4 linked regions of the Homo sapiens genome follow. The protein of the gene in region 4 purifies or fractionates together with the protein of the main gene of each other region. This does not show direct contact. Each region holds a gene or a part of one and is shown on either strand. Other genes may lie near its edges.

Region 1 (7,447 bases), on a different chromosome or scaffold from region 4:
TCCTGTAGATAAAGTGTTTGGCCCGGATGCTGGCACATGGGAGGCTGAATGTCAGTGATGAGGACTGGCATTTCAGGCAGGATGGTGAGGGTGTGTGGCATGCCAAGGATGTGACGGTTGGAGCACAAAGAGGCCCGGGACCTGTGGGAGGCTGTGTTGGACAGGTGGGTGGACCCAGCTGCAGGAGACAGATGGGAGGAAGAGGGACTTCTGTAGCCCAATGTTTGAAAACCATCTAGTCTCCAACCCCGATCCCTGCCCCTCTCCTCTCCAAGTTCTGTAATCTCCACAGCCTCTCAAATTGGGATGGTTTGGCAGGGGTGGGGTAGGAGCAGAAAAAAGCACACACCCTTCCAACTCCTAGAGGGAGGAAAGGCACCAACTTGGCCTTAGGTTTTAATAACTACTTAAACTGGTAAACATCCTCATTTTAAATCAAGAGGCAACTCCCTGGTCTAGATGCTAGAAAGCAGTTTCATAGTGCTCAACCTGCTCAGCTCAGGAAGACCTGGCCACTACGCACCGTGGGTGGACAGGAAAGAGTGGATCCAGCCTCAGCTGGAAGACCAGAGAGCCCGACTCCCCAAATGACCTGCTTCCTTCCCTTGCCCCAGCCTGCCTGAATCTCACCCCAGCCCTCTCAGTTGTTCATTTGTAGCTGGACAGGGAATGTAGCAGGCAGCGTAGACCGCCAGGCTGGGAGGCATCAGCTGAGACTGAGCTGGGAACCCTGGGACTTGGAGCCAAGGCCAGCTCTGCCACAGAGCACGGAACCTGGAGGCCACTCTCTAGGCCTCAGTTGCCTTCTCTAGGAAAGCTAGTGGTTCGGTCTACAAGAGCACTAGGCCTGGAAGGCCCCTCACTGGTTAACTCGCAAACCTGAGGTGAAGAAGGAGGGATCCGATATTTACTGCACTCCTAAAACTCAGCACTTCACACACTTAGTCCCCCAAATAGGCATACTTGTTTTATGAGGATATCCTGTTTGAAGCCCTTGGCAAGGTTTTGCAAATAAACAGAGGTTCAGAGAGCTGAGGGCTTCATGTTACGGGGTAAGGAGCTGAGATTTGGACTCGTCCATCTGACTCCAAAGCCAGACTATCCCCAGCACTCAGCCAGCGACCTTTTGCCCACTCAGCTCTCAGGTGTGCGCCTTTGGACTTCACTCAAGAACTTTCACTTTTTAACCACCTGAAGCCCTGCCCAGCACCTTGGTCTCTGATAAGTCCAAGAAGGGAAGGGCTGTGGGCCAAGGATAGGAGATATGAATGGGAGAGGAATCTACCTGTTTGACATCTCTAGGCTGGAGAGGGAACATGTGTGATCCCAGCTTGACCTGGCCTGGTCCTGGGGACCTCAGCAAACCTGGGGCAGGCTGTTCAACCCCCAGGTGGACAAGTGGCCCAGCCTGAGCTCCCTGCTGGCTCTGAGGCCAGCATTAGACTGTGTCACTTCCATACCTGCTGCCGGATTGCCTGGCTGAGGCCACCTGCTCCATTTAAGCCCCCTTCAGGACACTAGTGACACCATCTACCCCACCCCGCCCACTTACCCATTAGACATTCACTAAGCACCTGCTCCTTGCCAGCCCCTCTGCAGGCCACCAGGGACAGAGATGAGTAAGACATAGTCTGGGTCCTCCAGGTGCCCCTAGCTGATTCAGTCAGCTTCGGATGGGACTTGGGGATCTATATTTTTAACAAGCCTTGCAGGTGACTGAGAGGACACACCCAGGTGAGACCCTTTGGTTTTGTGGACCTTCTGGCTCTCAGCACTGTATTCTTGGGGCTGCCAGAATCCCCGTGAGGACACAGCCTGTTTCGCCCCAGTGGTAGGTTCCTCTGGGCTCCAAGTCAGATAACTCTGGGTTCAAATTCTACTTCTGCAACTTCCTAGCTGTGTATCCTTGCAAAATACGTGGACTCTCTGAGGCTGTTTCCCCATTTTTAACAAGAGATAATGGTGCCTTCCTGTTGTGAGGATTAACTGGGATATTGTGCTCAAAGCCCTTAGCAAGATGCCTGGCACACATAAATGGGAATATCTGCTGTTAATTATATTATGGCTGCACTCTGATGGACAGAAATACCTCCCTGGGGGCATTTCCAGAATCCCCACTTCTGGAGCCCATCTCTGAGGTGGCCCTGGATATTTGGGAGGCCTCTCTGTGCCCTCTGCCAGGGCTCCAGCGGGACCTTCCTGCTTCTCCCCACGGATCCGGCTTTCTGGTCCCCAAACCGCATATTATCTGGGCACACCCTCCCCTTCATTTACCCAGAGTGACCAAAGTTCCAACCACACCTCTCCGGGCAGCCTGTCCCCAAATTTCGGGGAAGTGGGCAGGAGGGGGAGCTTTGCCGGGCAGGAGGGGGAACTTTGCCAGGCAAGGGCTCCGCGGGCAGAGGCGGGCACTGGTGAGGCCAGCCTCCTCCTGGGGACCAAGGTCGGGCGCCCCTGCCCAGCCCCTGCACCTGCCCCTGTCCCTGCCCTGTTCGGCTGCGAAGGGACTGGGAGGTCTGGCGAGGAAGAGCCTGGAAGATCCCCGCCCACAGCTACCAGCCCTCCTTTGGGACCGCTGGCCAGAGCCCCAGCCGTGGGGCACACGGGACCTGTGGACTCAGCCGGGGTCATCCGGAGGGGCGCCCACATCTGCACCCGGGGCTCCGGAGCCTGCTCCCCGCCACTGTCGCCGCCGGCCCTGCCTAACCTGCGCGGCGCAAGCGGCTTCCACGCCTAGGGAAGGAAGGCACACGGGGTGGGGGCCCCGGAACCCGGTTTCTCTGCCGCCGGGCGCACGTGGCTCGGTCCCAGGGGACAGAAGTCGCCTCCAGACGTGTGGCGGCACCCGAGGTCCGCGCAGCGACGGCGCAGGGTGCAACCGGGCGGGCGTCTCGGGGACCGGGCGCAGCACGCAGCCCCGCGGAGACCGGGGGAGGGTACACTCACCTCTGCGGCCCGCCGCTCGGAGCGACCGCGGCAGCTGAAGGTCCGCGGCGAAGGCGGTGGCTCGGCCCGAGGCTCCTCCTCCCCCGCGCCCCACCCGCCCGGGAGGGCCGGACCTGCAGGGGAGGTGGCCGCCCTCCAGCCCGCCGCAGCTTATCCGGCTCGGCCACCTCCCCCGGGGCCGCAATCAGGAGCCGCCGGGTCCTCGCTCCCCGCCCAGCCCTGCACAGCCCCGGCAGCGGTGGCAGCGTCCAACCACCCTCCTCCCCTGGCCCCAGGCGGGAGGTCGCCAGCCGGCGCCAACACTTCCTGATTTGCAGTGCCCGGCACACGGCTGAAGTGAGCAGAACTCCGGGACCTCCTCTTAACCCGGCCACGGAGGGCACCGAGGCCAGGGTGACCTCTAGGCCCCCCTCTCTTAACCTGAGGAGCACCTCGAATCCTTGTCCATTTTATAACCGAGGCCAAGTGGCAGCCACGGTTGCAGGTGGGAAGAGACCAGGGCTCCAGATTGGGTCCGGATCCCTTCCCTCTCAACAAGGTTGCGCCCAGGCCTTTGTGGTCCCCCCCCAATCTCTGTCCCTTGTCCACCCTTAGGGCAGACTTTTGACCCTTCCCAGCAGTCCTCAGGTTCCAAGACCGGTGGGATGGCGGGTACCTTTCTCCCGGAGCTGCCTCCCTGTCTAGGCCTTCTGGGCTCTGAAACCCTACCCGTCCCCCCTTCCCCCTGGGGCACTGCCCGCTGCCCTCCGCACTTCCAATGCCGATGGCTTCACAGCACTGCAGCGAAGCAGGGCGTAAGTAAGGGGAGGCTGTCTGTGGGCACCTCTCTAGAGGTGTGCGCCCTGGTCCGAAGCCCCTTCTCACCTGTGGTCACATTTGCCGGCTGCAGTTATTTTCTTTACAGGTGAGGAGACCCGGGCTTTTCCGCTCAGATTCGTGGAGGCTGAGTGGGGGTTCCTGACCCCTGGTACTCTTTCTAGAGTATTCCTGGGAGACATACACTATTAGCCTCTGATAAGGAGCTTCAGGTTATTTTTAGGAAGTCTAAGAATCCTGTTTTCTGGGGAGCCAGCCTCTGTTGGGGAGATAAGCCTCCGGAGGCCAGAGGCAGGAGCTGGGCCTCAAGGAAGGCCCCACAACTGGACCCCAAAGGGCACGGTGGGGAGGAAGAGGCAGAGCTCTGGTCTCCCTGTGGAGGGAGTGCTGCTGTAAAGCGCCTTTCCCTCCACCCCCAACTCCCGCCGAGAACCCCCCCACCCCCGCAGGCAGTTTGCTTTCCCCCTCCACAGCTTTCCTCCTACCCGAATACCCACCTCCCAGCTCTCTGCTCAGCCAGGGCCCAAGGCCAGAGCCTCTCTTCTCTTGCAAGAACTTTCCTGTCCCACCTTGCCCCAGGGCAACACCTCTTATGGCAATTCTTACAGGTCCTTTATCCATTCAACACTCACAGTGCCCCAGGTGCCAGACAGTGCTCCCAGTGCTGGAGACACACGTGCCCAATGGAGGTTCCTGCCCTTAGGGTGCCAGGGCTGGTGAGTGGCCCCTGCAGTGGGTTGTAAACTTTGAGAAGACAAGACCCAGTTCCTAGCCCCCTCTGGTGCCCCTAATATGCTCCCCCTGCAGTAGCTGTTCTTTTGATGCCTGCTCCTGCTGATGGGGATGGCTGAATAGCCTTCCTTTAATGCCCAAGGACAGCACAAGGAAACCGAGCTTGGGAAATGCAAACACTGAGAGGTCTTCCAGCATCTTTGGAAGAATCCCTGGGAACCAGTGTCTTTTTGTGGGGCTCTCCATGCATGAGTAAGAGAGAGGAAGACTTTTTTTTGAGGCGGGGAAGCGGGGCTCTCCATGAGTAAGAGAGACAGGGGGAGACATTTTGAAGGCTGGGCTGCCAGAGGTCTATAGAGGATTATCTTAAAAGGAACATGAACTCCTGCTGGAAAAAGTAGAGGGGTCTGAAATTTCTCACAGACAGGGAGGGAGGTGAATACCCTACTTGGGCCCACACACTTTGGCAGAGAGGCCACCGCCCACGCCGTTGACCTTTGGTGCTTGTTCTGTCCACTGACCGTTGGACTAAGGGGGCCTTGAGTGTGAGCTTGTCTCACCTGGCATGGGGTCAGGTGTTTCCAGAAGCTTGAGAGCCAAATTTCCCAAAGCAGACGAGCCCTTTCCTACTCCAGGGAGGAGTGCAATGTGCTGAGCTTTGTTGAGCACCTTCTATGGGCCAGACTCTGGTGTCCTCTGCCAAGGATAGAACAGTCAGAGCCATCCTTGCAAGATGTTTGCCAGATCGCATTTCTCCTCTGCTCAAAACTCTACCCCCTCCCCCAGCAAAAGTAAAGTCCTTGCAATAGCCGTGGCCCAGTGTGATTGGCCTTCTCTCTGCCCTCATCCTCTGTCTCCCTCTCTCTGCTCACATTCAGTCCCACCTCAGATGAATCTGACAGGATCCTGACCCCTGCCGTTCCCCTTGCCTGGACCCTAGGCATCCCCAGGTACCCTCCCTACCTCCTCCAAGTCTTGGCTGAAAGGTCATCATTTCTGTGAGGCCCACGCTGATCGCCCCCATTCCTCATCCATGTACCTGCTTGCTTTCTTTTTTTCCCCATAGCCTGTATTACCTCTGAACACACTATAAAATAGAGTTTTTTGGACTGTTTTTCAGTAACTGTCTTCTCCCATAGAAATGTGAGCTCCTCCTGGGCAGGGATTTTTATGTTTTATTCAATTCCGTATCTCTAATGGATAGAGCACTGCCTGGCTCATAGTAGGTGCTCAGTAAATACCTGTTGCATGAATGCACACCCGTCCTCACACTTCCTTGCCTCTTTTAGCATCTCAGAAATGTCCCCACAGCTCCTGCCTACTCTGCTCTCCTTTTTATGCCCCCAGCTGGTGTGATGCTGATTCAGAGGGGTGCTCCACTTATGCACTTAGGGATGTCTGCCCCTGGAGTTGCTGAATATTCAATTTACAGAGCCCCTGGGATTGCCCTTTTTCCTTGAAGACAAGGTTAGCTGTTTGGCTAAGAAGAGAATAGCATCCAGGAGAAAATCTAGATTTATTTCTTATTTGATCAGGAAGGAGAGGGATGTTGCTCACCCTCAGCTTCTTGGATTAATCCAGCATTTATAGGATGGGACAGAGCAGGTCCACTTCACAAAATAAATCCTCCATGAAAACGAGATGGCCACGGGAAGCTGTATGCCCCAATGTACTCTGACACCCTAGCCAGAAGCCAGGCCACTTGGATCTGGTCCTGCCCAGTGGGCCGTGGCTGCAGGAAAGGTGCCGCTCCCCACTGATGCTCTCCCCACTAGACCAGGTGCTGCAGGACTCCTCCAAGTTCTGGAGCACAGGAAGCTCTTTCCTATGTAAGGCTGCATTCAGGGCAAATGGAGGCATTGTCTTTGCCATCACAATGACCTGATGGGTGGAGGCACATCAGCAGCAGTCAGAGCTGAGGCAGGGCAGGTAGTGGGAGAGGGCACTGAGCGGGGAGGCCAGCTGACAAAGGGGTGCTGGAGCCTGGGACTGAACCTCACAGATTCTGCTTTCCATGGCCCATGATGGTGACCCAATATTGTACAGCATTATAAAGTGTGGCTTACAGGGCATTAGGACACCCCCCCCTCCACATACACACACGAAATGTCCCTGCACCCCAGAATTTGGAATTCTACTGGAGCATAAGGTTGTCCTCCTTCCAGTCTTCTCTCGAAACATGAGCCCTCCAGAGAGGAAGCACTGTCTGAGCTCTGTGTCATGAGAATCTGTGTATCTGCAGGGAGATGTAACTGTGGCCAGCGCAAGAGTATGGAGTAGCTTCCAAAGGAAGTTGCTTTTTATTTGTTTATTTTGGCTCAAGGGAGCATTGATAAAGGCAGTTGCTGAAGGAAGAGTGGATAAAAGATGCCAGGGTGGAGGGTGGGTGGGGGAGCAGGACCAACCATCTTTCTGAGGGAGCTTCCTGGCGCGTAGTAGGTACTTAAACTTTTGTGTATGATCAACGGTCTTGGCTTGTGACTAGACCAAGATCGCCAACCAGAATGGAGGGAGGCTGACCCAGCACATCCCGGAAGCATTTACAGAGCCAAGGAAGAGATTCTTCTTGCCCGTCTATGATAACATTGCATTGCCTTTCAGCTGGGGGCGATTAGAAAGGCACTCACTACTAGATCATGGGAGATGCCTGGGTTTTAACCCCTTGCTGCTCGGAAGGTGGTGATCATGATGGCCTGGGAGGGTTTTAGAATGGCAGAGTGTCAGGCCACCCCAAAGCTCCCAAATTAGAATGGCATTTTAACAAGACCCCCTAGGAGGTTGTATACGTGTTTAAGTTTGAGAAGCGCTGGTCTACATTACAACTGAGGAAACTCACTACTCCCTGAACACCTGCATCAAGGTAGATTCACAGAAACCTAGAACTGGATGACACTTCCCCTCACCAGGGTGCATGACAATATCATACTTTTTGCTTGCTAAAAAGTCCTTGTGA
Region 2 (7,927 bases), on a different chromosome or scaffold from region 4:
AATATTAATGCCAGGTGGCCTATTAGTATGTATCAAACATTCAGCTAGGCAATTTATAATTAACATTTACCGAGCACTTACTATGTGCCAGATACTGTTTGAATGTTTACAACAACCTCATAAGGTAGGTTCTATCATTATCTTTATTTTATGAAGAAACGGAAGCACAGAAAACTTTAATATGCACAAAGCCAAATGGTAAGCGACGAATCCAGCATTCAAATCAGTCTGCATGGTTCCACCACAACTCAAGCTCTTAAACGTTATCATTCCTACCTCACAAGAGAATTTATACAGGGTTTCTCATTTAATCCTCTCAATTCTGTGAGTTAAAGATTATCAATCCCAATTTATAGATGAAGAAATACAGGCTCAGAAAGGTGACGTAATTTACTTAAAATCACACAGCTTTAAGTGGTTCAAGACAAGTTAGTCAAGACTTGAATCCATTTTTGTTTCACACCTCCAAATTGTTAATACTACACTATATCAAAGAAGGATGAAAACTACAAAAAGGCAAGTGAACAATAAAAAGGCACAGGTATCAATCTATGTAGTTTAATATGGTCAGTCACTTTTGAAAATTTCTAGGCTATATACAGGCTCTTCTTCAAACTGTTTATATATAAAAAAAAATGTGACGATAGGGAGAAACTGACAAAAATGGTCTCTTGATGGTCAAGAATAACGGGACAGAAAACCCCACACGTTTTTAAGAACTGTATAATCTTTTACTATGAAACCACAAAATTCATATTTGGCCACAAAATACAGAGACAGACACAAGTAGGCACCATTCTCCTATCTCACAACCACCCCCTCCCACCTCAGTAGATAATGAGAATCGGCTTTATTACTCATGCTCTTCCTCCTGAGAGATCAAGAAACAAAAGCAACATGAAAGAATCCACCTACTTTAGGCTACCCTCTTAAATCTGGTACCATTCTGAAAACAAGCTCATAAACATACATTAAATGTTAGAAGTTATTTAAGATGTTTCTACCAAGAAACAAGTATATGAATGCATTTAACATTCTTTGTCTCATGTGCAGAATGGATTTGCCTTTCTTAAATCAATAAACTTAAAAGAGAGGAAAAAGGCTCAGAAAAGTGACTTTCCTTATCACCAAAAACATCACTGCTTTCAAATGTTTCTCAAGACCCAATTAGACAGTATAACTCCTCTGCAGTTATACACTTTAGTATTTCAGAAAATGTCTTCCGCCAATTATCCATCCAGAGTAAAATTTGTCAATATAATCATGCCTCTCATCATATTCCCTACATAGCCCAGAGGTCTCAGAGAGCAAAACACATTACTGCATCTATAAGAAACACCCATTTCAAAATTACTAGTCCTAGTCAGACAATCAAGCTTACATTCTCAACAATGGAAAAACAAATTAGAAGCAGCCAGCAAGACTGCAGCTCCTTTATACCAGACACATATTTTTTAAAACAAATTATACCAGAGGAAAAAACTGTCATTTGTTAAGTATCTTTTATAGTATTTTGCAGCCCGGTTAAAGGCAGAAGAAAAAAAAATGATCACGCACAAGTCAGAAGTCAGTCCAAAGAATAAGTGTTGTTTCAGGAGGGGGAAAAAAAATCACTTATTCACAGTTGTTCAACAATTTTAAAAATAATCAGTGCTGTGTAGGAAAAGCATTAAATATTTTAACGAGGCCAAAGGGATCATGTAACATGTGAATGACGATCTAATGTGTCCAAAGTGTACAGTGAACAAACAGGTTCCGCTGTCAGCCTCCTAAATGATGTTTTGAAATAGGGTGGAACTTTAAGAAAAGCACTCATCTCATAACATTTCATTAAATTCACTGGGTTTTTTTTGTGAATTGAAAAATAATGAGTTTTTTCCCCAATGCTAGACATAATAAAACATGGCTTGCTTTCTTATAAATGAATCCTGCCACACACCACATCGAGGCTTGAAACGCCAATATACAGAGATGCAGCCCCATCCCCTTGTCCCCCATTTCCACTTCCCCTCGAGTAATTCCTTTCAAATAGCTATTTAAACATGCACAGACGCTATCTGAAATGAAAACTTCCCTCTCATTCCCTAAGCTGAAGAGAGCAGGAATTCCTCAAGAAAGCTGAATCAAGCTCAGTCACCCACAGAACCTCAATCTCTCAAATGCCCCATGTTACCAAAATAAAAGCTGGATACCCTAAGTAAGCAAATCCTTGGACACTTCACATACACAGTAAATAAATAAGCTCACGAAAATAAAAAGGTGGAAAAACAAAGACAACTTAAAAGCAAACCACCACACCCTCAACTCCGCGTTGCAACCGGTCGGCCAGGGGCCTTTACCTTCATTTTCCATCGAAACTGCACTCGGGTTGATGGCTACAAAGTCTTTAGTGTCAGCCACGGCCACACTGGGAATAGAGAGGAGAGGAGGAGGACAAGGAAGAGAAGCCCCCGGAATCCCAGGCTGTCACCCCCGCTCCCGGCCACGCGTCCCACGGCTGCTCCCACCACCCCTAGCAGCAGCATCTGCAAGAGAAACCAGGAGAAGCGGCGCTGACGAGAGGCTGAGGAAGGAGTTCCCCGCCCAGCCACTATCTCGGGAGCCCCCCTCCCCAAGATCCCGCACCCGCCCCGTCGTGTGCCCGCAACGTCCCCAGCTCACGCCAGCGGGGCGGCGCCCTAGAGATGCCCCCCCATCCAGGGGATACCCGAACCTCCCCTTCCTTCAGAACCTGGAAGTTTCTAGAAATGGGGGCAGGAGGTAATACTGGTACCCACCCAAAGCCCCGGACAGCCCTCCTCCAGGCTGCGGGGTCTCAGCCGCGGGGCTCGCGGGGGCGCCCCGCGCGCCTCGGGAGAAGAGGAGCTGCTCGCGGGGCAGCGGTGCGAGGCGGGAGCCTGCTCCCGGCGTGAGAAGAAGCGAGCGGGAGGGAGGAAGGGAGGGAGAGAGGGCGGGCGGGGAGGGGAGAGAAGAGGAGGTGAGGGGACCCGTCACGGTCCGCCGGGCCGGCTCCGCGAGGCCGTGCTGGTCTGCTCCCGCCTCCGACTCCTGCGCTCCGCCCCTCCCCGCCGCCGGCCGCCCAGTCGCGCCCCGCACTCCTGGGCCAGCCGCGAACCCAGCTTTGTCACTATTACTTCCGCTGAGAGAGGTGCGCGCAGGCGCATTCGTGTTCACGGGCTGGGAAGGCGGAAGTGAAGTGAAGGCCGAGACTTCGGCCCGGAATGGACAATGTTTGGGTTTGGATCCGTCCGGTAGGAGGTCGCTCGGGGTTGGTGGCCCGCCTTGTTCTTGCTGGCGCCTCCCTTACCCCAGGGACGGTGTCCGCCCGTTTATATGCACCCCCTGAACGCGAGGGTCGGAGATTCGCCCACGCCCCGTGTCGGCCACGCATTCCCGTGGGGCGGCCGCGGGGTCGGCCCAAGCTGAGAGTCATGGCCGCTGTCCCCGAGGCGTTTAAGCGCTCTCTACAAAGTCTGTAGGGGAAGCTGCTCCCGTCGGGGTGGCAGTCACAATCTCAGCAGGCAACGTTGAGGCCCACGGAAGGAAGGGGCGAGGTGTCCATGCTCCTGCCAGGGACTGGAGCACCGTGAGCAGCCTCCCGAGTCTCGCACTCTCACTTGCAAAACCCTGCACTGACTGCTTGGTTCTTGGGGGAGCCGGTAATCGCGGGGCGACTTCCCAAAATTCTTTAAGGGGTGTGCTTAGTTACCATGTGTAATGAGAGAGCAAGGTTCAGCCTCAGAGAGCTCCAGGGAGAGCTAATCTTTTTCATTCGTTTGTGGTATATGGAACTGGGGAGAGGCTGGAACAGCAATTAGAAACCAGTCGTACAGCTGTCGAAGCCAATGAACGAGCACTTCTTTTAGCAGCTGTACCTTTGTCCAGTGTCAATGCCTTTTCACACGTAAACATTTCACTTGCTCGGCATCTTACCCAGACCCCTAATAAGTGCTTTTTAATGAACGATTGGTTTTAATAAACCGTGGTGAGCCAGACATATAATGTTGAACAGAAGTCCTCTCACACCCATAACCACTAGAGGGCAGGGCTTCACCTACTGAGTTGGTGATCATCCTACAGAGAACTCAAAAGAAAATTTCCGTATATGCTAGATGTGTTTTTCTCCATCAACACTTAGACACTTTACAAATTTGCTTTTTATCTCAGGTCCTGTAACATATCGCAGTGTGCTCTCTAACCACACGTTCAACATCAGAATTAACGGACGGGGTTGCCTGTGTTTCTATATTTGTTCCCAAGTAAGTGGTACTAGACTAGGATTGAAAATTCTGGACAGCTTTCTAGATTTACCTTTCTTTTAAGAAATATTGAACTTTTATTCAGCGAGGTCACTTTTAAAGATGAACCCATAAAAATCACTATCAAGTAGATTTCTAGTCTTAACGAGTTAACTATGATCCACCTCTGGCATGCATGGTCAGTGATTTTTGTCTGCACAATGACGGAGCCAAATTAACGGACGGGGTTGCCTGTGCTTCTATATTTGTTCCCAAGTAAGTGGTACTAGACTAGGATCGAAAATTCTGGACGGTTTTTAGATTTACCTTTCTTTTAAGAAATATTGAACTTTTATTCAGCGAGGTCACTTTTAAAGATGAACCCATAAAAATATCAAGTAGATTTCTAGTCTTAGGAGTTACTATTTATGATCCACCTCTGGCATGCATGGTCAGTGATTTTTGTCTACACAATGACATAGCCTGTGATTTGTACAATGATTGTGATCTCTCGTAATCAATTTGTAACAGTTATTACTGTACATATTCGACCTTGAAACAGCATTATATTAAAAACAAAAGCACCTAAGGTAGGAAATTACACAATATAAATACTTTGATATTAACATATGCATTTACAAAATAGAGGGTAACTGTACAGAATTTGGTATTGGGTCACTTTAGCTGAAACATTTTTCTAAAGCAACTTTTCAGAACTATCTGTTGTATTAATATACTGCAATACTCTAGCATTAACACTGAATCTATAACTCCTCCAAAAGATTTATAGCTCCATGGTTTATTCCTAAAATGACTTAAACTGAAATTTTACTTTTGGTCCCCTAAATTATGAAAATCATTGTTCCTATTACTAAGCCAAAAAAGAAACTGGTAAGATCAAGATCAACTTTACCAAGAAGAATTGACCAATTAGTCATTTTATATAAAAAACTTAAGCATCTGGAAATTTTGGTGTCTGAGGGGGTTCTGGAACCGATCCCCTGTGGACAATGAGGGATGACTATATACATATATATGTCATACACACACATATGTATATGTATAGACAAACATATACACATATATATGTATATTCATACACCCACATATACATACACACTAGCCTTCTTTCAAAAGATTTTTGTAAGAATCTCATAAAGTAAGTGAACACAGGTTGCAAATTATAAGCACTATAGAAGTATAAGATTATTATAGAGAGAATCAAGGAAATCCCTGGAGTGTTAGCTAGCTACAATGGGATTGATGGCAATGAAACATATTATTTCCAAGTTTCAGCTTATTGCTTCCATAGAAATCAAAGCTCTAAAAATTCTTTCTACTCTCCTTTTGTCCTGAATATTTAACCTACAAAATTAAATGCATCTGATGCAAAAAGTGGTCACGTGCAAGAAAGGGAAATTTGTCAGGCTTTTCCGCTTGGGGGAAATATTACAAATGGGAAAGATTGAAGAAGAATGGTCATGACATTCTAATTTTCTTTATACTGTGCTTTATTCCACAAAGGGTGTGCGGTATCTTGTTTTTAATATCAAATTTGATAGCTGCATTTTTATAAACCTGGATGGTACAAGAATATGTGGTTCTTTAGGGATTTAAAAATTAAAACTTGGAAAAAATTATTTTAAAATCTTTCCTCAATTAATTAATGTCTTCTTTTAAAGGCTGTTTTAATGTTGTTTAAAGTACCAGAGGTTAATAGTTAAGAAATTTCACCTAGCTGCTAGAAAAGAAATTGTAATTTTATTTTAAGTTGAACATTTTATTTATTTACTTACTAACTTAAGAGACAGAGTCTCTGTCGCTGAGGCTGGAGTGCAATGATGCCATCATAGCACACTGCAGTCTTGAACTCCTAGGCTCAAGAGATCCTCTTGCCTCGGCCTACCAATGTGCTTGGGATTAGAGGCATGAACCACCATGCCTGGCAAAGTTGGACACGTTAAAAACATATAAAGATGCATCACTTTATTTTTATAAGCTAACCTACTCCAACAGAACAACAGAAGTATTTTTCTTCTTATAAGATAAAGGACATGCTAAATGTCAAGTTTAGAAAACTATAGTTTTATTGCCAAGAGTGTTGTACGAAATCAGTTCCTAACAAACATCTACCAGAATTGCTATAAATCTGCCTAGTTCCATGTTTTGGCAGTGCTGGAAGATTAAAAGTTGGAAGCAAGAATAAAAATTGAAGGACTCATATGAGCTACTTGTGTTTGGTTGGTTTTAATAGCACCCAGATCCAGATCCCCAAGTACTCTACAAATATTTTATCACTCACAAAATTCCATAGCCTCTTTCACACTTGCTAGCATTTTAAACATGAAATATTTGATGAAACTGAGATGAAATGAGAGAACTTATACTCTTAATTTTTATTGTTAAAGAAGTTTATTTCAAGTATGACATAGTCTCTCCATTCATTGGCTCAGATTCTGAGCCAGTGGTAATATTTGGGATCTTATATACTACCAGTCTTCTGGATTAGACATGAGTGTCGATGGGATGCATGTGAAAATAAGAAAGAGGTAAGAGCAAAGTGAGTGTGAGTCCCATGACCCAAGAGTACCATGACCAATGAACTTCATCATTTCCATGGAAAACAGACATACAATATTCCAAATTATATAAACTACAGGATTTGTTTTGAGATACAAAGGTATCCATTTAAATGATAATATTCCACCTAGTTTCCAAACTAGCATAATTCACCTCTGGCCCCAAAACATTTGACAGCAGTAAATATGTAATAAAGACCTATTAAATAAATGGATAGCCTGAAAAATGTTTATCATAAATATTTTTTGTTGAATGAATAACAATCTACTTGTTTCCTATGATCAAACTAAAATCCAAGCTCCTACTTTCCTGTAAAACCAAGAGGACTTAAGGGATTTTTAAGAAGTTTAAGGGTTTCTGGTGCATCTCACACCTGTAATCCCAACATTTTGGGAGGCTGAGGCAGGAAAATTGTGTGAGCCCAGGAGTTCAAGACCAGGCTTGACCACATAGTGAGATCCTGTCTTTACAGAAAATAAAAGCATTAGCTGGGTGCAGTGGCACACACCTGTGGTCCCTGATACTCAGGCAGCTGGGGTGGGAAGATTGCTTAAGCCCAGGAGGTCAAAGCTGCAGTGAGCTGTAATCATGCCACTGCACTCCAGCCTGGGGGACAGAGCAAGAAACTGTCTCAAAAAAAAAAAAAAAAAAAAAAAAAGTTTAAAGAATAAACCTACATCTCCAAAAACCACAAAGGGGTTAACTAGGACAACATTATCTGAATGGGAATAAGTCCTAATTGTTGTAAGAAATGCTCGATATTGAGCACTGCCCAGAGCAGATAAAATTGCACACCCAGATTTTGAGCCCAGGTAACCATTTGAAATTAAAAGATAACAGTGTTGAGGTGCTTGTTTCCATGCATTTGAGAAATTTTAGCTGAGCCTGTGCTTTTGATTTTGATGGCATGAATATTAATGCCTGACAAAAAGCATTGTACACTAGGTCCTCGAATAAGGTCATTTTGTTCAACATCATTTCATTAAATGATGAGAAAAAAACATCAATTACTGGTAGGGCCACTGTATTGAGTTTGCACATTCTCCCTGTGTCTACATGGGTTTTCTCCAGGTATTCTGGTTTCCTCTCATATCCCAAAGTTGTGCATG
Region 3 (7,032 bases), on a different chromosome or scaffold from region 4:
AACAGCATCAACAACAACAAAAAATCCCCCACAAAAACCCCATTCAAGGGTCAGCAGCCTCAAAGACTGAAAATAGACAAACTCACAAAGATGAGAAAGAAATCAACGAAAAAATGATGAAAACCCAAAAGGCCAAAGTGCCTCTTCTCCTCCAAATGATCGCAATGTCTCTCCATCAAGGGTGCAGAACTGTATGGAGGATCAGATGGACGAATTGACGGAAGCAGGCTTCAGAAGATGGGTAATAAAAAACTACGCTGAGCTAAAAGGAGCATGTTCTAAACCAATGCAAAGACGCTAAGAACCTTTATGAAAGGTTAGAGGAATTGCTAACTAGAATAACCAGTTTAGAGAGGAACATAAATGACCTGATGGAGCTGAAAAACACAGCATGAGAACTTCGTGAAGCATACACAAGTATCAACACCCAAATCAACCAAGTAGAAGAAAGGATATCAGAATTTGAAGACCACCTTGCTGAAATAAGGCATGCAGACAAGACTAGAGAAGAAAGAATGTGAAGGAATGAAGAAAGCCTCCAAGAAATATGGGACTTCATAAAAAGACCGAACCTACTATCGATTGGAGTACCAGAAGAAGACAGGGAGAACAGAAACAAGCTGGAAAACACACTTCAGGATATTATCCAGGAGAACTTCCCCAACTTAGCAAGACAGGCCAACATGCAAATTCAGGAAATACAGAGAACACCACCAAGATACTCCACAAGAAGATCAACCCCAAGACACATAATCGTCAGATTCTCCAAGGTTGAAATGAAGGAAAAACTGTTAAGGGCAGCCAGAGAGAAAGGCCAGGTCACCTACAAAGGGAAGCCCATCGGACTAACAGCAGACCTCTCAGCAGAAACTCTATAAGCCAGAAGAGATTGGGGGCCAATATTCAACATTGTTACAGAAAAAAATTTTCAACCCAGAATTTCATATCCAGCCACACTAACCTTCAAAAGCGAAGGAGAAATAAAATCCTTTCCAGACAAGCAGATGCTGAGGGATTTTGTCACCACCAGGCCTGCCTTACCGGAGCTCCTGAAAGGAGCACTCAATATGGAAAGGAAAAACCGGTACCAGTCACTGCAAAAAACACACCAAAATATAAAGACCAATGACACTATGAAGAAACTGCATCAGCTAGTGTGCAAAATAACCAAATAGCAGCATGACGACAGAATCAAATTCACACATTTTGCTATTTTTCTAATTATCCTATCTGTCCTTTACCTTCTGTCTTTCCCTTTCTGCCTTCTTGGGTTAATTGAGTAGTTTTAAAATATTTCATTTTGCCCTTATAACTCAGCTGCCAAATGTTTGGGTTGGTGGGGAGCTAACCTTGCTCTTGAACTGTACTCCTGGCTTTCCACATCTTGGAAGATCTCTCTTTATCCTGCTGGTCATTGGCTTTGCATTTGGTGAAGGCTCAGTGCTTCTCAGAAGGATCACTTTCAGCCCTTTGACCTGCTCCCAGCCTTCAGTGGACTGCTGCCTTGCATTCTGCAAAGGCCCAGTGTACTTGAAGAGGATCTCTTAGCCCTTCTGTTCTGTTCCTAGCCTTTGGTGTGTGGTACTTGTGCACTGGGTGGAAGCTCTATGGGAAAGAACTGGCAGGTGGATATGGAGTTGCTCTTTGATCAGGGCTCTTCAGAATTCTAATTCCTCACATCAGCAGCTAATAAAAGTTTCTTAAAAATTCAGCTGGTTTCTTCGTGGTCCCATTTTTGGCAAGTTTATTCCTCCTTCTATCAGAGATGAAGCAGCTATGCATCTCTTTTTTGGGAAGAGGTCATCTGTATATCGAATTTATTTAGGAGATGAAGCAGCTATGCATCTCTATTTTGGGAAGAGATCATCTGTATATTGAATTTAGTTTATTTAGGTTTTTTATGCATCTCAGCTCAGATAGTTTTTATAGAAAATCTATGATTTTGTGACTTCCTCAACTTCTTGTTGTAGACTCTGGTTATTTTTAAAACTTGTAATTTAAAAATTATATGCCAATGGAAACACTCTTCAAGAATCTTACATGTAATGCTTATTGCTTAGTGGTTTAATGAATGACAACAATCCCTGAGTGTGGGAATAGTTGAGGTCTACAAAAGGTTAATGAGTAAATGAATTATGTTTACTTTGGGTATTGAGTCACTGGTACTGATCTGGCCATACACGAATATCCCTAATCACCCTCATGACTAGTAATACACATTTATAAGATGGTGGACCAGAGCTGGGCTAGCGTTGATTGATAAGGGACAGAAAGAAAGTATAGCGATTGATTATTCAGCCTTGCCTCATGGGCATTTGTACATCCTTATGAGTTAAAGTGAGATGCAAATGCATTCTTCATTAAAATGGCTTATCTGAATCATTTTAGAGCTGTATGCAATAATTTGCTTATACTCATTAAGATAAGTTTGGTTATGTTGATTAAAAACAAAGCTTATTTTCTGCATTTTCCAATAATATTGTAAAAAATACTTCATACCCTTCATTGTTTGGGTTTCATGTCTTCATTACATTCCTTTTACTTCGTATTATCTTTTAAGATTTTGTAGAAGAATTTCACTTGGGTAACTGTAGGCTTAAATGATGCAATGCTTTCTGGAATCCAGGGGTGACTGACACACAGAGGTGACTCAGACATGAAATGTTCAACAAAATTCTAAGATTGTCTTTTTTTTAAATTGTAAATTCTTAAACATTCATAAAAGTAGTGAGATTAGAATAATGAAATCCTGTGCTTCTAATGACTGTTAACACAAGTGAATCTTATTTATCCTATCCACTTTATTAAAAATTTAGTTATCTATTATTTAAAATAATATATTAGCTTATTTTAAAGCTAATCCCAGATATTATGTTTCATTTTGCATGTCTGTTGCTGTCTTGGTAGGAAAAATTTTAAAACATAAATTACTATGACATAATGATATCTAACAAAGTTAATTATTTAAGAAACTTTCAAAAGTTGCTTTTTCATGCCGTTTCCCTAGCTACCTATAAACACCTGGAAATTATATTTATTTTATATTTCTAATGTTATTCAAATGATAATATGCTGATTTCTAAAATTGCATTTTTTTCTGTTGCTCTCAAGAATATCCTAAACATATCCATAGGATGTGGGATGACCTATGAAAATAGTCTGGACAAACATTTATCTTGTTTATCTTATGATAAGCAGAGTTCTGAGAAGTTTGGTAATAAAGAGTTAACTTGGTTTAACTAAGATTTTCCTAAATTATTTGACACCAGAACCTATTTTTTATTTAACATCTGTTAGCAAAAATATATTTGGGGGAATATTGTTCTAGGCAGGAGAATGCTGCCTCTGAATAGCAAAATAATCTTTACTTCATTTTTATTTCAATTAATTAGGTAATTATTTGTCCATATTACATTATCATCATAATTAAGTAATTTTTTTTTGTTTTTCTGTAATCTGCTTAATATTGATAATGTGGTGTGACAAGTCATCTTTCTCAGGATCTTATTTTATGAAAATCTTTCATCACACTTATTTTATGAAAATCATTTGCTGTGTAAGCAAATTAAGTATAAGCATTTTGTGTTTCCACTAGATAGATATTTGCACACAAAAAAATAGACATCAAAATCCCATATAGAAAGCTAAATGCATCTATAGTTCATTGAAGAGGAAGCTAGAAATAAGATGTGTAGAAGTCAAAGAAATAGGGCCGGGCGCGGTGGCTCATGCCTGTAATCCCAGCACTTTGGGAGGCCAAGGCAGGTGGGTCACGAGGTCAGGAGATCGAGACCATCTGGCTAACATGGTGAAACCGCGTCTCTACTAAAAATACAAAAAATTAGCTGGGCGTGGTGGTGGGCATCTGTAGTCCCAGCTACTTGGGAGACTGAGGCAGGAGAATGGTGTGAACCTGGGAGGCAGAGGTTGCAGTGAGCCGTGATTGTGCCACTGCACTCCAGCCTGGGTGACAGAGAGAGACTCCGTCTCAAAAAGTCAAGGAAATACAGCTCAAATTATAACAGTGAATAACTAGATTTTGTTTCATTTGTGAAGAATTGGCAAATAACTTTTAAATAGTTTCAACATAGGCAGTAGCATGGGAATTCTCCTACACTTTTATGTACCCTTAAAATATGTTCACTTTAAAAAATGTAAATAGTTAACAGGGGCGATTGAAAGCTAACTGCCCAACAAAGGAAACAATTCTCCGTGTGTCCCCCTTCTCTGCTCACCCTGTGACACCTTCTCTGCTCACCCTGTGACACAGGAGCGACAAGGAACTCACAAGGCACTGGTGCCCTAGTAGTTCTGCATCTCATCCTCTCTCATACAGTTTAGTTGACATCTGCTCCCTGTCACTCACCCATACCCCCAACCTCACCAATCCTCCAAAGTGGATTAGTTGTTGCTTAGGTGTGTTTTGTCTTTATATTGCGTAAATATTGTGAAGAAGGCTCTTTCCTCTGTGGTGCTACAAAGATAATTTTTTTTCCCGTTACAGTCAAGCTACAACTTCAAGCAGAAGAGAGAGGAGTTGTGTCTATCAAAGGAGTGTGTGCTAACCGTTACCTGGCTATGAAGGAAGATGGAAGATTACTGGCTTCTGTAAGCATACTTTCTGTTTTCACACGTTTTTTGTTAGCTTTTATTGCTGTTAATTTACCAGCATTGTTGTTTATCAAATCTTTATAAAGGATTTTACGTGTATCATCGTCATAGTCACCCTGTAAAATAGGGAGTATTTTCTTTATTTCACAGATGCAAAAACTGATGTGCTGAGGGAGTAAGTAAAGTAAGAAAACACAGCTCATATAAAGTAGAGACTGGATTGGGCTGGAGGCATTCCTGACCTCTAAGTCACTGCTTTTACTCTGCAAAACTATTAAGCTATAATTTAAAAAAAATTTTCTTCTATTATGCAGTTGTTTGAAGATCATTGGGAATAAATGTATACAATTTTGATTATTAGTTTTTAAGTTTCTTCTTTAGAATGTGACGTACAAAACACTAGCAATGTAGAACACTAGTTGAGAATGTAAGCTTTCTGCCTGGTACAGATGCCGACTCTGCCACTTATGAGCTCTGTGTTCTTGGGCAAATGATTCTGAGTTAGTTCTCTTACCTGTAAAATAGAAACAATGATACTATCTCATTGGGATTTTATCAGAATTTAATTAGATACTACACATCAAGTGCCCAAATCAGCATCTGACACGTAATAGATCCTGAAAATTGTTACTTCTTCCTCACATTACTTCTCATTTACATATATGTCAGGAGAGGGACTTTTTTTTTTCTTTTTTTTTTTGAGATGGAGTCTCACTCCACTGCGCAGACTGGAGTGCAGTGGCGTAATCTCGGGTCACTGTACCCTCTGCCTTCTGGGTTCAAGCAATTCTCCTGCCTCAGCCTCCCGAGTAGCTGGGATTACAGGAATGCACCACCATGCCTGGTTAATTTTTTTGTATTTTTTAGTAGAGACAGGGTTTCGCCATGTTGGCTGGGCTGGTCCTGAACTTCTGACCTCAGGTGATCCGCCTGCCTTGGCCTCCCAAAGTGCTGGGATTATAGGCGTGAGCCACCGTGCCTGGCTGTAGAGAGGAACTTTTCTTTTTTACATGTTATCACAGCTTATCAGGGGTCCTAGTTCCTGGCTAGTATTCTTTCCACTAGTACAGGCTCCCTGTCAACTTCACCATTATTATTAGAAACGGGACTGCATATCTGTTGAACATATGATGTATAAAGAATGGTGCAGGAAAATAAATATAAAAGACAGATCTCATTCCTGTCTCCGTGAGGGAGTAGATAGGACATGTATGTAAATGTTTGTGCGTGTGTGTGTTTCACAGCTCTTACACCAATGCCACTGGCCAGTTATGACATCTCTATATAACCTCCCCACAGAAAGGATCTAACAGTACTAAGAAATTGTGGTATTTTGAGCTATACAAATAGTTTTTGAAATTTCTTCTGAATGAAGACCTTTGGATTTCTAAAAGCACCAAAACAAGGCTTACAGAGAAAAAGGGTATCTAAACTATCCCAATTTCAGACTGACTGTATGACAAAGATATACTTACATTGATATTACCAGTTTATGTAATTTTTGCAGGATAAATCACAAGTTTGAGTGTAGTGGCTCTCAATTTTGGGGGGAGGTAGTTGAATAAATTTTAGAATTCTCTTTAAGAATAGCCAATACTTATTAAGTGAAAGTGTGCCAGATGCTATGGTAGGCATTGAGCTTATAAAATTGAATATCAAATTGTCTCTGCCCTTAATGAGTGACAATCCAGGGGAGGCAGAAGTGTAAATAAGTATTTATAATAATGTATAAGGGTTTTGATATGCTACTTCTATATTTTGCATACATGCATAGTAATATAGGAAAGGATAAGAAGTATTATGATATAGGAAGCAATATAGAAAATGAGGTAATTACATTTTTCTAGAATTGGGGGAGATGACCTATAAGTAGAATTTTAGACGTTGTAAAGGAAGGAGTTCAGCAGGCAGTCATGGGGCAGAAGAAATTGAGATGAAGGTATAGATAACTCTAGGACATAGGACATGAAAAGGTGTGGATAAAAAATCTACTTGATGTATCTCTAGAATTACAAGTAATTAACTAATGCTGGAATGTATAGTGCAATGGAGTAACTAGGTGGAAGGGAAGGGAGAGAAGGCTGGGGAGGTAGATAGACTGTCTGCTGAATCTGTTGAAGGGCTTTATACACCATGCTGACTATAAGCAGTGGAGAGCCATGAAGAGTTTTAAGAAGAGATCTAATTAGATTTAAATTTGAGAAAGATCATCCTGGCAGAAGTGTAGAGAATGGACTTGAGGGGGCCAAGACTGGTGGAGAGAGATCAGTTAGAAGGCCACTGTAATAGTCCAAGCAAGTCATGTTCTGATCCTGGCAATAACAGTAGGTCAGAGAGGAGTGAGGAAAGTGCTAGCACTTGTGATTGATTAGATTTAGGACTGAAGATGAAAGAAAAGTCAAAGATGGCTTTTAGGTTGCT
Region 4 (4,020 bases):
ATTTCTCAGCGTAAGATGTCCTAACCACAATCAATTCTGGCACTTGGAGCAAAAAGTCAGCTTGATAACAGGCAACAGGGTTGTTTAAAGAGTTGGAAACCCCACCCCTAGAGAACGGTCAAGTATTTATAACTACAAATACCCATATGTGACTGTTCTGCAATCTGAACCCTTGCAAAGCACCGGGGACTGTTCCAAACATGCTTGCTGACTGACTAAGGGACTCAAATAAGACTGTGTGGGTAGAAGAGTAAAGCTTTTTAAAAAAGTTCACTAAAGCCACCATGTAACTAATATTAAACCTAGAAGCCAAATGATCAAAAAAGCAAACTCCAAATGTTGGGTAAAGCTTTTGCCTTTAGATAATTTCAATCAGTATTTGTAACAGTAAAGGGGAATTCTGAACCGAAATCTGCTTTTTCTACTAATTTCACATATTAAATATACTGAAACACCAATATCAAAAAATTTGGTAAATAAACACACCAAAACAGAGGCCATATAGTGAAAACATTATATTATAACATGCTTTTCCAAACAAAATATTAAAATTAATAATTTTTAACATATTCTTTAAATTCTACATGCATACTTTTGAATATCTAAACTACATGTTAAACAGCTGAATACATTCTACTCACACTTCAGATCTTTAAACACCAACAATCTATGAATATTAATCTATTACTACAGGACAAATTTGGATATACGTCTTGGATAAATTTTAAGCTCACTTTAAGAGCACCAATCATTAACAATCATTTTTGTATTTTATTCACAAACACTGATACGATTTGTTTATTTATGTTAAAACAAACATTTTCTTTAAAAATGAATGTGTATTAAAGTAGTTTAACTGGTAGAATAGGCTTTATTCCAATCTGTTTGTTAAACAGCCTATTTTCACAATATCTATATCTACTTTTCATTGATCTGTTCCATCATTACTAACATATTTGTTCAAATTATTAGGACTATTTTTTCAAAGGGAGGAATAATCAAATTCCCCAGTCCATATATCTTATAAATATTTTACACCTAATACACACAGCTTTACAGTTCATGCGATAGGCAGTGTCTAAAAAATCAGTTACTAAATCTCAAAAACATTTAAATATCTATTTAAACACAGTGTCTTCTAGATTTTTTTTGTAAGAAAAGTAATCTGTAAACATCTTTACCTTTAGTTCATGCTTGGTCATTTGCTGTGGTCATTGTGGAAGAAGTGGATATGACTTTATAACCATTTGTGAAGTAGTCCATCTTTGCAAAAATATTACATTCCATGGGTAAAGAACAAGTCTTAGAATTACCATGTGGTACAAATTTGTGAAAGCAATTTCTGTATTTAAAAACATAAAACAAAGACTACTAAACAGTCCAAAACTGTCGTAGCTGAATATTCTAAATACGAGCCAACAGTACTACACTAAAAATGTCCAAAAATAAGGCCTCTGAAATAAATATTTCCATTCTTTAAAAAAAGACATAATAAATGTACATCACATGGTCAGTGTACATATAAAAGTCATCAGTTTAAACCATTCTGGATGACGTATCTGAAGTAAAATGACCTAGGTTTTGCTTCTGTCGACGTCCTCTATTGTTTTTGGGGCATTTTCTGTTGCATTAAAAAAAGAAAGAGAGAAAAATATTGTTTTGATGATTTTGTTCAGGATATTTCAAATGTTTCCAAAGTAATACACATTTTGCACATAAAGCCACATTGCAAGCAATTACATGAAAGGGAAATGAGATGGTATCTGTTGCAAGACAAGATGAAGATGAACACAATTCAGACTGCTACCTCCTCTACAAACCTGGAAGTTGAGAGGATTAGATATGTAATATAGGTACTGGCACAAGCAAAACTCATTACCAGTGTCTATGCTACTATGTATGCATCCCTGACAGATATCCCACCCTTCCTCCAGCCTAGAAACTCCCTAGTCACAGTGACTGATAACATGAAACCCCTGACAGGAGAAAGGACTCTGGCCTATGTACTTTCCCTGTGCATTATGAGAAGACAGCTCTAAAATGACAAGAAGAGCTTAGATGAAGGGAGAAATCAGGAAGAAGTGTGCTTATTAACCTCAGCTATGAATACATAGGAATGTCTACTGATTTTAGACAATGACTCAAAAGAAGCTGTCCACACCCTCCTGGGGCAAACCACAGAAGCCCATAAGGAACTGCCACACTGAGGATAAGGGACATTCTTTAACTCTGCTCTCATTTTACCACGTTTCTCAACAGCAGTACAAATCTCACTGGGTTGGAACTGCTCTTGTGCCTGCACACTAGATTGCAAACACAAGATGCTGTGCTATGCAATGTGGAGTAAGGGGGCTAAGACGAATTCTGGGCTCTGCTAATAACTAACTGTGCAACCTCAATTCTCCTATATGTAAAAAATAAATTAGGAGTTGGACTAGCTTCCAAAATCTCTGCCAGCAAGAAATTTACAACCTAATGGAAAGAAAGTCTTATAACAATGAGTACTCCTCATTTCGTTCGATTTCAAAGAGTACAGCTTTGCCTTGACTAAAAGTGTTGACAATACTTCCATTTTGTATATGGTTTTACCTCACTAATCCTCATTTTAAAAGTGTGAGGTAGACAGAGTTGGAATCATCTCCATTTCATAAATGAGAAAACTAGCTGACAGATCAAGCAACCCTCTTGTACTGTCACTAACTCACCATGACCTTGGAAAAATTCCAATTTCCTAGTGCCATGGTTTTTAAATCCATAAAATCAGGGCGTTTAGTTAAGGTGATGTTCAAGGTTCCTGACAATCTGTCATTCTATGAGTCTGAAAATATGAAAGGCGATTCCAAGAAGAAGAAAAAAAGAAAAATTGACTCATGCAGTCTTGATAAACAGGTCAGTGGGAACATCCTTTTAAAGAAGATTCCTCCCATGTGACAGCCGCCACGGTATATGTCAACAGCTGTCTCATAATGGACTGTGTGGGAGAGATACTTAAAAACTCAATGGAAATAAATCCAAGTACATAAATGTTCTAAATCCAAGATAGCAAGACATTCTAGGGGAGGAAATACCATAATAAAAAGACAGGCCTCCAGGAGAAATCTGTGATAAATTCAATGAGATGACTCTTCAATCGTAGAGACAGTGGGCAGTAAAGACACTGTGACATAGTTAGAAATACACTGTGATGTCTAAGTGGCTGTGAGGGCAACAAGGAGGGATCTGGAGTATAAACTAGAGGGTACCTACTTCAAAACTGCCTGCCAGGTAATTTTAATTGAGTAGTTGAGCATTATAGCACTGAAAGAGTTGGGTAAAAGACTGTTGTAAGGGGGCTTTCCTAGCTCTAGGACCTTAGACCAAGGTACTTCTTATCTCAGGGCTTCAGTTTCCCAACTTCTCTAAATGAAGGGGTTGAACTCAGAATTGTTTCTCATTGACTCTGACATCCTTTGATCCTCTTAAAAATGGCACTATCTGGCTGGGCACAATCCCAGCACTTTGCGAGACCGAGGCAGGTGGATCACTTGAGCCTAGGAGTTGAAGACCAGCCTCGGCAACATGGCCAAACCCAGTCTCTACAAAAAAAAAAATACAAAAATTAGCAAGGCATGGTGGCGCATGCCTGTAGTCTCAGCTACTCGGGAGGTTGAGATAAGCCCAGGAGGTGGAGGTTGCAATGATCCAAGATCATGCCACTGCACTCCAGCCTGAATGACAGAGTGAGACCCTGTCTCAAATAAAGGCACTATCTCCAGGCCTCAAACATCTCCCCTTACTTTACCTTAATTTTCCTTCTGCCTTCCAAATCATTCATTACCTCACTCCTATTTAACTCTAATAATGACTTAAATGGTCTTCCCCCTACCTCATATGTTCACTACTCCAATGAATTTTTCAGATGACTCATTAATACTCTGAAAAATATGGTTTATACCAAGTCCTTCCCCTGCTCAAAAACCCTAAACTGCTACAAAATCAAGTTTGAACCCTGCTCCCATGCAATGGTCATACTGGGCAAAC

Evidence for each region.
Region 1: the proteins of TMEFF1 (region 4) and STEAP3 purify together in Homo sapiens (affinity purification with mass spectrometry, with the first as the bait; 3 studies listed by BioGRID). This does not show direct contact.
Region 2: the proteins of TMEFF1 (region 4) and ATP2C1 purify together in Homo sapiens (affinity purification with mass spectrometry, with the first as the bait; 3 studies listed by BioGRID). This does not show direct contact.
Region 3: the proteins of TMEFF1 (region 4) and FGF2 purify together in Homo sapiens (affinity purification with mass spectrometry, with the first as the bait; 3 studies listed by BioGRID). This does not show direct contact.

Annotation. Positions count from the first base shown.
Region 1 is NC_000002.12:119,219,388-119,226,834, reverse strand, and holds the start of STEAP3 (metalloreductase STEAP3), read right to left. Parts: upstream 3,002-7,447; 5' UTR 2,947-3,001; intron 1-2,946.
Region 2 is NC_000003.12:130,889,188-130,897,114, reverse strand, and holds the start of ATP2C1 (calcium-transporting ATPase type 2C member 1), read right to left. Parts: upstream 3,032-7,927; 5' UTR 2,778-3,031; intron 2,566-2,777; exon of another isoform or gene 2,526-2,565; 5' UTR 2,346-2,525; coding exon 2,340-2,345; intron 1-2,339. UniProt on the Homo sapiens protein: ATP-driven pump that supplies the Golgi apparatus with Ca(2+) and Mn(2+) ions, both essential cofactors for processing and trafficking of newly synthesized proteins in the secretory pathway.
Region 3 is NC_000004.12:122,871,817-122,878,848, forward strand, and holds part of FGF2 (fibroblast growth factor 2 isoform 18 kDa), read left to right. Parts: intron 1-4,504; coding exon 4,505-4,608; intron 4,609-7,032. UniProt on the Homo sapiens protein: Acts as a ligand for FGFR1, FGFR2, FGFR3 and FGFR4. Also acts as an integrin ligand which is required for FGF2 signaling. Binds to integrin ITGAV:ITGB3.
Region 4 is NC_000009.12:100,574,117-100,578,136, reverse strand, and holds the end of TMEFF1 (tomoregulin-1 precursor), read right to left. Parts: intron 1,622-4,020; coding exon 1,537-1,621; 3' UTR 1,203-1,536; coding exon of another isoform or gene 1,182-1,202; 3' UTR 501-1,181; downstream 1-500. Other genes in the region: MSANTD3-TMEFF1 fusion protein, read right to left, coding at 1,537-1,621.